Regions from separate parts of the Homo sapiens genome. Here region 2 is linked to region 1. The links come from fine-mapping of genetic effects on gene expression. A gene starts in region 1. The other region holds a variant in brackets. All regions are shown on one strand. Distances are between the middles of the regions. Region 1 holds the start of PLD2 (phospholipase D2). Region 2 overlaps MINK1 (misshapen like kinase 1).

Evidence for each region. PIP is the estimated chance that this variant, and not a neighbour inherited with it, causes the effect. A credible set is the group of variants that fine-mapping cannot tell apart.
Region 2: its variant is the best candidate, but not a certain one, in a credible set for the expression of PLD2 in whole blood (TOPMed, PIP 0.51).

The regions. Positions count from the first base shown.
Region 1 is chr17:4,805,368-4,809,752 of GRCh38, forward strand. It overlaps PLD2 (phospholipase D2), which reads left to right and starts at 1,785. Exons shown (of 25, transcript NM_002663.5): 1 at 1,785-1,858; 2 at 2,405-2,514; 3 at 2,617-2,747; 4 at 2,907-3,049; 5 at 3,733-3,838; 6 at 3,931-3,996; 7 at 4,126-4,184; 8 at 4,324-4,385. The coding sequence starts at 2,406. It also overlaps a transcript of C17orf114 not described here. RefSeq lists a silencer at 1,336-2,125 and an enhancer at 2,521-3,720.
Region 2 is chr17:4,844,777-4,849,161 of GRCh38, forward strand. The region is part of intron 1 of MINK1 (misshapen like kinase 1); the gene reads left to right. Among named protein-coding and RNA genes, the nearest start is that of MINK1, 14 kb to the left of the region's middle. RefSeq lists an enhancer at 4,174-4,385. The variant T/C (reference allele first, on the strand shown) is at 1,865.

The DNA of each region.
Region 1 (4,385 bases):
GCCGAGATCGCGCCATTGCACTCCAGCCTGGGCAATAACAGCGAAACTCTGTCTCAAAAAAAAAAATTAGCAAAAGGCCGGGAACGGTGGCTCACGCCTGTAATCCCAGCACTTTGGGAGGCTGAGGAGGGCGGATCACTTGAGGTCTGGAGTTTGAGACCAGCCCGGCCAACATGGTGAAACCCCGTCTCTACTAAAAATACAAAAATTAGCCGGAAATCCCTTGAACCTGGAAGGGGGAGGTTGCAGTGAGCCGAGATCACGCCACTGCAGTCCAGCATGGGCAACAAGAGCGAGACTCTGGCCGGGCGCGGTGGCTCACGCCTGTAATCCCAGTACTTTGGAAGGCCGAGGAGGGCGGATCACAAGGTCAAGAGATCGAGACCATCCTGGATAACACGGTGAGACCCCGTTTCTACTAAAAATACAAAAAAAATTAGCTGGGCGTGGTGGCGGACGCCTGTAGTCCCAGCTACTCAGGAGGCTGAGGCAGGAGAATGGCGTGAACCTGGGAGGCGGAGCTTGCAGTGAGCCGAGATCGCGCCACTGCACTCCAGCCTGGGCAACACAGCAAGACTCCATCTCAAAAAAAGAAAAAAAAAGAGCGAGACTCCGTCTCATAAAAATAAAAATAAAAATAAATAAAAAATAGCAAAAGACTGAATAGGCACTTTATAAAAGAAGACATACAAATGGCCAATCAGCACATGAAACATGGTCAATATCATTGATCTCCAGACAAATGCAAATCAAATTGCAATGATGTGCCCACAACACCCATTAAATGGCCAACGCTAAAGACTGACAATATCCAACGTTGGCCATGCCATGGAATAACTGGAACCACCATACACTGATTTTGGAAATCTAGAATGGAAAAACCATTTAGAAAAAAATCGTTTGGCAGTTTCTTATAAGTTAAACACACACTGATATGATCGAACAACTCCACTCCCTAGTTACCCAAGATAAAGGAAAACTATCCACGCAAACTTACAGGAATGTTTACAGGAGCTAAAACAATGGGCAAAACTAGAAACCCACATGTATATCAAAAGAGAAAAATAAATCTGCTTTTTAAAAAAGATTGAAATATCTTGTATTTTAATACCCGAAAAAATTTTATTTCCCCCTAGACTGCCAATTCCAGCTGAGCAGGCTCTCTAACCATCTTATTTACTACCATACTCTCAATTTCTGGCACGGAGTAAGCGCGCAATAAATGTTTGGTGAATGAATGAAAGAATGCCCGCTTTCATACACTAATGGGTTTGTAGCCACCACCCCTCAGGCCTTTTACGCCCTCATTCCTTCCAGGTACAAACGCTATCTGGGCTAGGCCAAATGTGGCTCGCAGCGGGTCCGGGAGCGGGGCACCTACCGGCAGCTCCCGCAGCGGAGGCGCGTCCCCCGGGCGCCGAGGCAGCGCCCGCGGCTGGAGGGGCCCGGGGCGGGCGCCGAGCCCGAGGGATGCGCGCAGCGCGGGGTGCCCCGGGAGGCAGCGGCCGGGCACGCTGGGACCGACGGCGCGGGACGCCCCGACGCCGGGCAGCACTTACCCGCCGCACCGAGAGAGCTACGCGGCCCCGCGGCCCTGCAGGGCACAGGGCGGCCCCCTGCCCGGGGCTCTCGGTGGCGCACTGGGCGGCGGGGCGGGCCGAGGGCAGCGGGGGCGGGACAGGACAGACGAGAATCCCGCGGAGGTGAGGCCGGGGGCCGCCCCGCCCCCGAGGGCAGGCCCTGAGCCCCGGCCCCGCCTCGGCCGGCCCCGCCTCGGCCGGGGCGTGGGCTCCGGCTGCAGCTCCGGTCTGCTCTCTTGGCTCCGGAACCCCCGCGGGCGCTGGCTCCGTCTGCCAGGGTGAGGGGGCCGGGAAGGGGCGCGCGGGGGTCCCGGGTCTCGGAAATCGGGCGGGGACGGAACGGGCTCGGGCTGCGGGGCCTCCAGACTCAGTCGCACGCTCAGATTTCGGGATTTCTACCCCCGGCTGGGATCGCGTAACTTCCTCATTCCCGCCTGGACCCCTGCCCCCGGCCCGCCTGGCCTGGCGTGAGCCCCGTAGCCGCGCGCTCTCCGGACCACCCAGGGCCGCTTCCCCGCGCAGCTGCTGCGCCGCCCCAGGTCGGAGCCTTCCGGGCCTGGCTGGGTGTTCCCCGGGGCTCTGGTTACGGGACGGGGCGGGGGGCGGGGGGCGGGACTGGGATTGTGGATGAAGGACTAAGGTAGGGGATGGGGGCTCGAAGGGGTCGGTGGGGCGTTGCAAACTGGTCAGGCGTCATCCGCGGGCGGTCAGGAGGCCGTGGGGGAAGAGGAGGATCTGGAAGAGATGGAGGACCTGCGGGAGTTAGGATGGGGGGCGGGTTCTGCAGGACAGCTCGCCTCCCTGAGGCTTCCCAATGTTCCTAGGATGACGGCGACCCCTGAGAGCCTCTTCCCCACTGGGGACGAACTGGACTCCAGCCAGCTCCAGATGGAGTCCGATGAGGTGGACACCCTGAAGGAGGGAGAGGACCCAGGTACACAGGGAAGATGGATGGCCCTCAGGGAGGAGAGGCGTTCGGGAGCCAGGGGGCTGGGGCCTGTTGTGGTCTACACTCCTCGACTTTCTTTCCTCCCAGCCGACCGGATGCACCCGTTTCTGGCCATCTATGAGCTTCAGTCTCTGAAAGTGCACCCCTTGGTGTTCGCACCTGGGGTCCCTGTCACAGCCCAGGTGGTGGGCACCGAAAGATATACCAGCGGATCCAAGGTGGCCAGACTGGCCCCAGGGAGGGGGAAAGGGAGGGCGGCCCGGAATGGATCCAAGGTGGCTGGGCTGGCCCCAGGGAAGGGGCAAAAGGAGGGCTGGCCAGAGTGGGGAGGCGGGGACCCACGCAGGGGACATCCATTCAGTTCCTCATACCCCTAGGTGGGAACCTGCACTCTGTATTCTGTCCGCTTGACTCACGGCGACTTTTCCTGGACAACCAAGAAGAAATACCGTCATTTTCAGGAGCTGCATCGGGACCTCCTGAGACACAAAGTCTTGATGAGTCTGCTCCCTCTGGCTCGGTGAGGGCGACCGGACTGCTTCCTGTAGAGGGCAGGTGCTCCCCACCCTCCTTTCTGTCTGTCTCACCCCGGGGCCACAACCTTTCCTCCCTGCAACTCTGGCCACTGTGCTGCCTCCCCTGACCCCAGTTACCAGGAAACTTTCCCTGCTCAGCTTTCCCTGTCCATGGTTCTGTGCCAGCATCTCAGCTGGGCGGGATGCCCAAAATGCTCTTGGCAGCCTCACCCTTTTCTAGTCTCCATTCCCAGGGTAGGGGGCCTCCGTTTTGCCAGCCTCTAGGCCTTTTGTTTGTTTTTTGTTTTTGTTTTGTACAAGGTCTCCCTCTGTCACCCAGGCTAGAGTGCAGTGGTATGATCTTGGCTCATGGCAACCTCCTGGGCTCAAGCAGTCCTCCCGTCTCAGCCTCCAGAGTAGCTAGGACCACAGCCACCACACCCAACTAATTTTTGTATATTTTGTAGAGATGGGGTGCTGCTGTGTTGCCCAGGCTGGTCTTAAATTCCTGAGCTCAAGTGATCCACCTGCTGCGGCCTCCCCAAGTGCTGGGATTCCAGGCGTGAGCCACCACGCCTGGCCACCTCCAGGCCTCTTCTTTTCCTCCGAGCCCCATCTCCAGTGTTTTCAGGAACCAGAGCACCCAGCCTCCCAGCTCTTACCTGACCTTCATCCATCCTTTCCACAGATTTGCCGTTGCCTATTCTCCAGCCCGAGATGCAGGCAACAGAGAGATGCCCTCTCTACCCCGGGCAGGTCCTGAGGGCTCCACCAGACATGCAGCCAGCAAACAGGTGGGACCAGATGCCAGGTCCTCCGGGAAGGCATTGGAGGTGCAAATGGCTCGGTCCCATCTGTCTCTCTCTCTCTCTCATCTCCACTTCAGAAATACCTGGAGAATTACCTCAACCGTCTCTTGACCATGTCTTTCTATCGCAACTACCATGCCATGGTAAGGTCCAGGGGCCGATTTTAGATGTGGAGCAGGATTATCAGACCCTCGGGGAGGAGGGCCAGGGGCCCCAGGGTCTGAGGGGCTGAAAGCCAGGTGTCTCCTCCGGGCTTTTGTTTTCCTCTGCAGACAGAGTTCCTGGAAGTCAGTCAGCTGTCCTTTATCCCGGACTTGGGCCGCAAAGGACTGTGAGTGTCTGGCCCCCTTCACCCAGGCATCCGTAGACATCACTCTTAATTTCTCCCTGCCTGAGATTGGGGCAAGCAGTGCAGGGTGGGCTGGGGGTCTGGAGTCCTCATCCCGCCTCTCTTCCTGATTGTCCCACAGGGAGGGGATGATCCGGAAGCGCTCAGGTGGCCACCGTGTTCCTGGCCTCACCTGCTGTGGCC
Region 2 (4,385 bases), 39 kb after region 1:
TCTTCAGAGGGAGGAGAGGAAGGCTGTCTCATTTCCCCCCACCCTTTAAAAATGTGTTGTTGTTGTTTTTTAATGTGATTAAGTATATGTAAGACTTACCATTATAACCATTTTTCAGCGTACACTTCTGTGGCATTAAGTGCATTCACATTGTTGTGCAACTGTAACCACTATCCATCTCCAGAACTTCTTCATCCTCCCCAAATGAAGCTCTGTACCCATTAAACACTGACTCTCTGAACCCTCCACCTTCCAGCCCCTGGCACCCACCATTCTGCATCTCATTGTCTTTTGTGTGTGCAGAGTTGAGCAGAGGGTCTGACCGAGCAGATGTTTAATATTTGTTGAGTCCGCCTAGGTGCATGTCTCAGAAGTCCATGTATCATCAGCCAACCCAGAACACAACCCCCCTCCCAGCTCTAATGCAAGATGACAGGCTTCTGAAAGGGATTTTAAATGAAATGGCTGTCTGGAATCACAAGAGGATTGGGCAGCAGCAAGAGAAGTTAAGGGTTTCTGTTCCGTATTCAGTTCCTTTTGCCACCCCCCAGCCATGACTTGCGTTCTGGTTCTGCTATGCTCATGTTCGTCATCTTGCTTGTTTTCAGCCTCTTACTTCATCTCATCCTGGGGGTCTGATGGGTAGGTGCTAGAGGAAGTTGGAAATAAGGTCGTTTAGGGGATGAAGATCATAGAATGTAACAGCATTTCTGTATTAGTATGTGAGGGGTACATGTGTTAAAGGGCGGTCAACCCTCCTGGACCTCCAGGCCTCGACAGTTGAGAGCCAGGTCAGGCTCTGTATTCCTCTAGTGTTCATACTCCTGGACAGACCCAAAGCATGACCTGGAATTGAGTTGGATTTTTTTTTTTTTTTGACAGAGAGTCTTGCTCTGTCACCCAGGCTGGAGTGCGGTGGCACAATCTTGGCTCAACTGCAGCCTCCACCCCTGGGTTCAAGCGATTCTCCTGCCTCAGCCTCCCAAGCATAATAGCTGGGACTACAGGCATGCGTCACCACGCCCAGCTAATTTTTGTATTTTTAGTAGAGATGGAGGTTTTACTGTGGTGGCCAGGCTGGTCTCAAACTCCTGACCTCAAGTGATCCACCTGCCTTGGCCTCCCAAAGTGCTGAGATTGCAGGCGTGAGCCACCGCATGTGGCTGAGTTGGATATTTTAGAACACAGATGAATGCAATGGCCTCCCTGGCCTCCTCACTTTCCCTCATCCTTGCTATTTACAGTTTCTCATTGACCTTCATGGGGAAGGAGGAAAAAGGGAGGGAGTGACACACTTATTCTCCAGGTGGCCCAGGAAGAGAGGAGGGCAGGAGAGCCCCCTGTCTTAGAGGTCAAAATACAGGCCTCTAGCTGGTAGGCTGGGGTGGTATCTTAGGGTACACTGTTGTGGGCTGTGCCCTTACATTACCAGGCAGAAGCCTGCAGTGCAAAAGACCTCTGCGTTTCCTCACAATAGTGTCAGATTGGAAGGATCAAGGGAAGACTCAAGGACTCATGAGGTCTTTTTTCTCTGTCTCCTTGTACAACCTTAGAGGAAGCTGCATGTATTTGATGACACCTTCCAGGAACTGCCCAATACCGAATGGCCCTTCTCACCACAATTCCTCTTACTGCAGTCTAAAGCGTACTTTTTTCTTAGGCTGAGCCAGGTCTGAATGGCAGTCAGTTGTTTTCCTTGGACTGAGTCTCAGTCTACCCCACCCTAATGTTCAAAGTTTGAATGAAGGAATGTTCCAATTGATGACTCCTAGAGACACTAACATCCTTAGGTGTTATCCTACAGTCTGCCTGGATGTTGTTCCCATCACCATCGCCAATACAAGTAATAAGTGATTGAAGTGTT[T/C]GTGTTTAAAGCAGAGCCTCTATGGGCCATCTTATTATGACTTTTTTTGAGACAGGGTCGTGCTCTGTTGACCAGGCTGGAGTGCAGCGGCATGATCATAACTTGCTGTAGCCTTGAACTCCTGGCCTCAAGTGATCCTCCCACCTCTGCCCCCCAAAGTGCTAGGATGACAAGTGTGAGCCACAGGCTCGGCCCCATCTTACATTTCAGAAGGTGCCAGCAGTCGGCCAAGGCCTCAGAGCTAGTGAGAGCTGACTTCCCATACTCATGCCTCATGACTCTGCCGCATTGCCCAGTCCCCACCAGAAACAGAGATCTCGTGTGAGATTGGTCAGTGTGGAGTCCAAAGTGTAGTCTTTGCAGCTTAGTTGTGTTTCACAAGTTAACAATGAACATACCTGCTACTGCCCGGATCTCCTGTCCTGGCCTCATAACCTCCTCAGGTGGCCCAAATTGCCTATCTCTAAAGAGCTGTCAGTGGGAGGCCTGCTAACACAACGGGCTGTTTGACTTTGCCTTTGAGGCAATGTGATCCATGGAGTGAACATGGCATGAGGAGCCGGGTGACCTGGTTCTAGTTTTGGTTCCAGTTCATTCATTCATTCATTCATTCATTCATTCATTCAGATGGAGTCTCGCTCAGGCTGGAATGCAGTGGCGCAGTCTCAGCTCACTGCATCCTCTGCCTCCTCGGTTCAATCAATTCTCCTGCCTCAGCCTCTAGCGTAGCTGAGATTACAGGCTCCCACCACCACACCTGACTAGGTGAGCTGATGCTGGTTTGAATCCAAGTCTGTCTCCAAAGCCTATGCAGTTGCAGGGAGTGTTTCCCGAGGACTGTAGGATGATAGGATTCCCTAAGATCCCTTCAGGCCCAGGAGTCCTTATTTCTTCCTAAAAATTTTTGAGTGCCTACTATGAGACAGAGCCAGCCCCCTGTCATAGAGGTCAAAATATGCTTTATTTGTTCTCACACTGACTTAAACATATGAATATATTAAATGTGTAATTTACAGTGTTCTATATATAAGGAAAAGTGCATGTATGAGGTGGTGACTGTGTGTTAAGCTGGGAGGAGCTGACAGAAACGGGGGGTGCCAGTGGCCAGGGCGGGTGGTGTCTCAGAGCTGGTCTCGGAAACATCAGTTCCTACTGTGTAGAGAGATCTCAGGTTGGGCGCAGTGTTGGAGTGTGGGTATGGAGCCCAGCATCCATGGGAAGGACACAAAAAATAAAGGGAAGTTTCAGAAAAAGGTCTGGGCCCAGTACAGTGGCTCATGCTTGTACTCCCAGCACTTTGGGAGGCAGAGGTGGGTGGAGTGCTTGAGCTCAGTAGCTTGAGACCAGCCTGGGCAACATAGAGACCTCATCTCTGTTTAAAAGAGGAGAGATGGGGGAGAGAGAGGAAGAAGGAGGGAGGGAGGACGGGAGGGACTCTGAAGGACTATTTGATTTGAAATATGACCTTCAGAATATGTACACTCCAGAGACGGTTTCCTGAGTCTGCTAGTGCTGAGGAGGAAGAGCAGTCAGAACCAAATGGGGATTGACTTGTGAAGACAGGGAATTGTTCCTTAGGGACAGAGAGGAACCTGGAATGGGGGACCTTCCCCATCGCTCCCTGCAACTGCACAGACCTTGGAGACAGACTTGATTCAAACCCCAGTTCTGTCACTTACTACGTGTTCTTTGGCAAGTAACTCATACCCCTATGCCTCAGTGTTTGGGGGTATTTTTTGAGACGGAGTCTCACTCTATCGCCCAGGCTGGAGTGCAGTGGCGTGATCTCGGCTCACTGCAAACTCCGCCTGCCAGGTTCATGCCATTCTCCTGCCTCAGCCTCCCAAGTAGCTGGGACTACAGGCACCTGCCACCACACCTGGCTAATTTTTTGTATTTTTAGTAGAGACGGGGTTTCACCGTGTTAGCCAGGATGGTCTCCATCTCCTGACCTCGTGATCCGCCTGCCTCGGCCTCCCAAAGTGCTGGGATTACAGGCGTGAGCCACCGCGCCTGGCCTCGTTTTTGTATTTTTTAGTAGAGATGGGGTTTTGCCATGTTGGCTAGGCTTGTCTTGAGCTCCTGACCTCAGGTGATCCGTCTGCCTCAGCCTCCCAAAGTGCTGGGATTACAGGCCTAAGCCACCGCGAACCTGGCCCCTGTGCCTCAGTTTTGTCCTTTGTAAAATGAAGGTAACAAGACTCACCTAATAGGGATGTTGAGAGGATTAAATAAAAGGGATGTAAAGTGCTTAGTCTGGTAAATGCTCATTAGACAGGTGGTAGCTGCCCAACATCTCTTATTGCACAAAGTTCCCAGAAAGCGTGTCTCCTGGGGTTCTTTAACATTCCTCTCCCCCTGACTTAGTATTTTGTTTAAGAAAGAGAAAACCACCCAGTCTATTGATTTTAAGGTAAATGGCTGAGAGTGAGTCAGTGAGCCCCAGGTGTAGACCTGGAATTCTGTGGGCTTGGCTTCCCTTTCCCAGTCCTAGAGCCTCCTACCATCTCCTGAAAGTCTT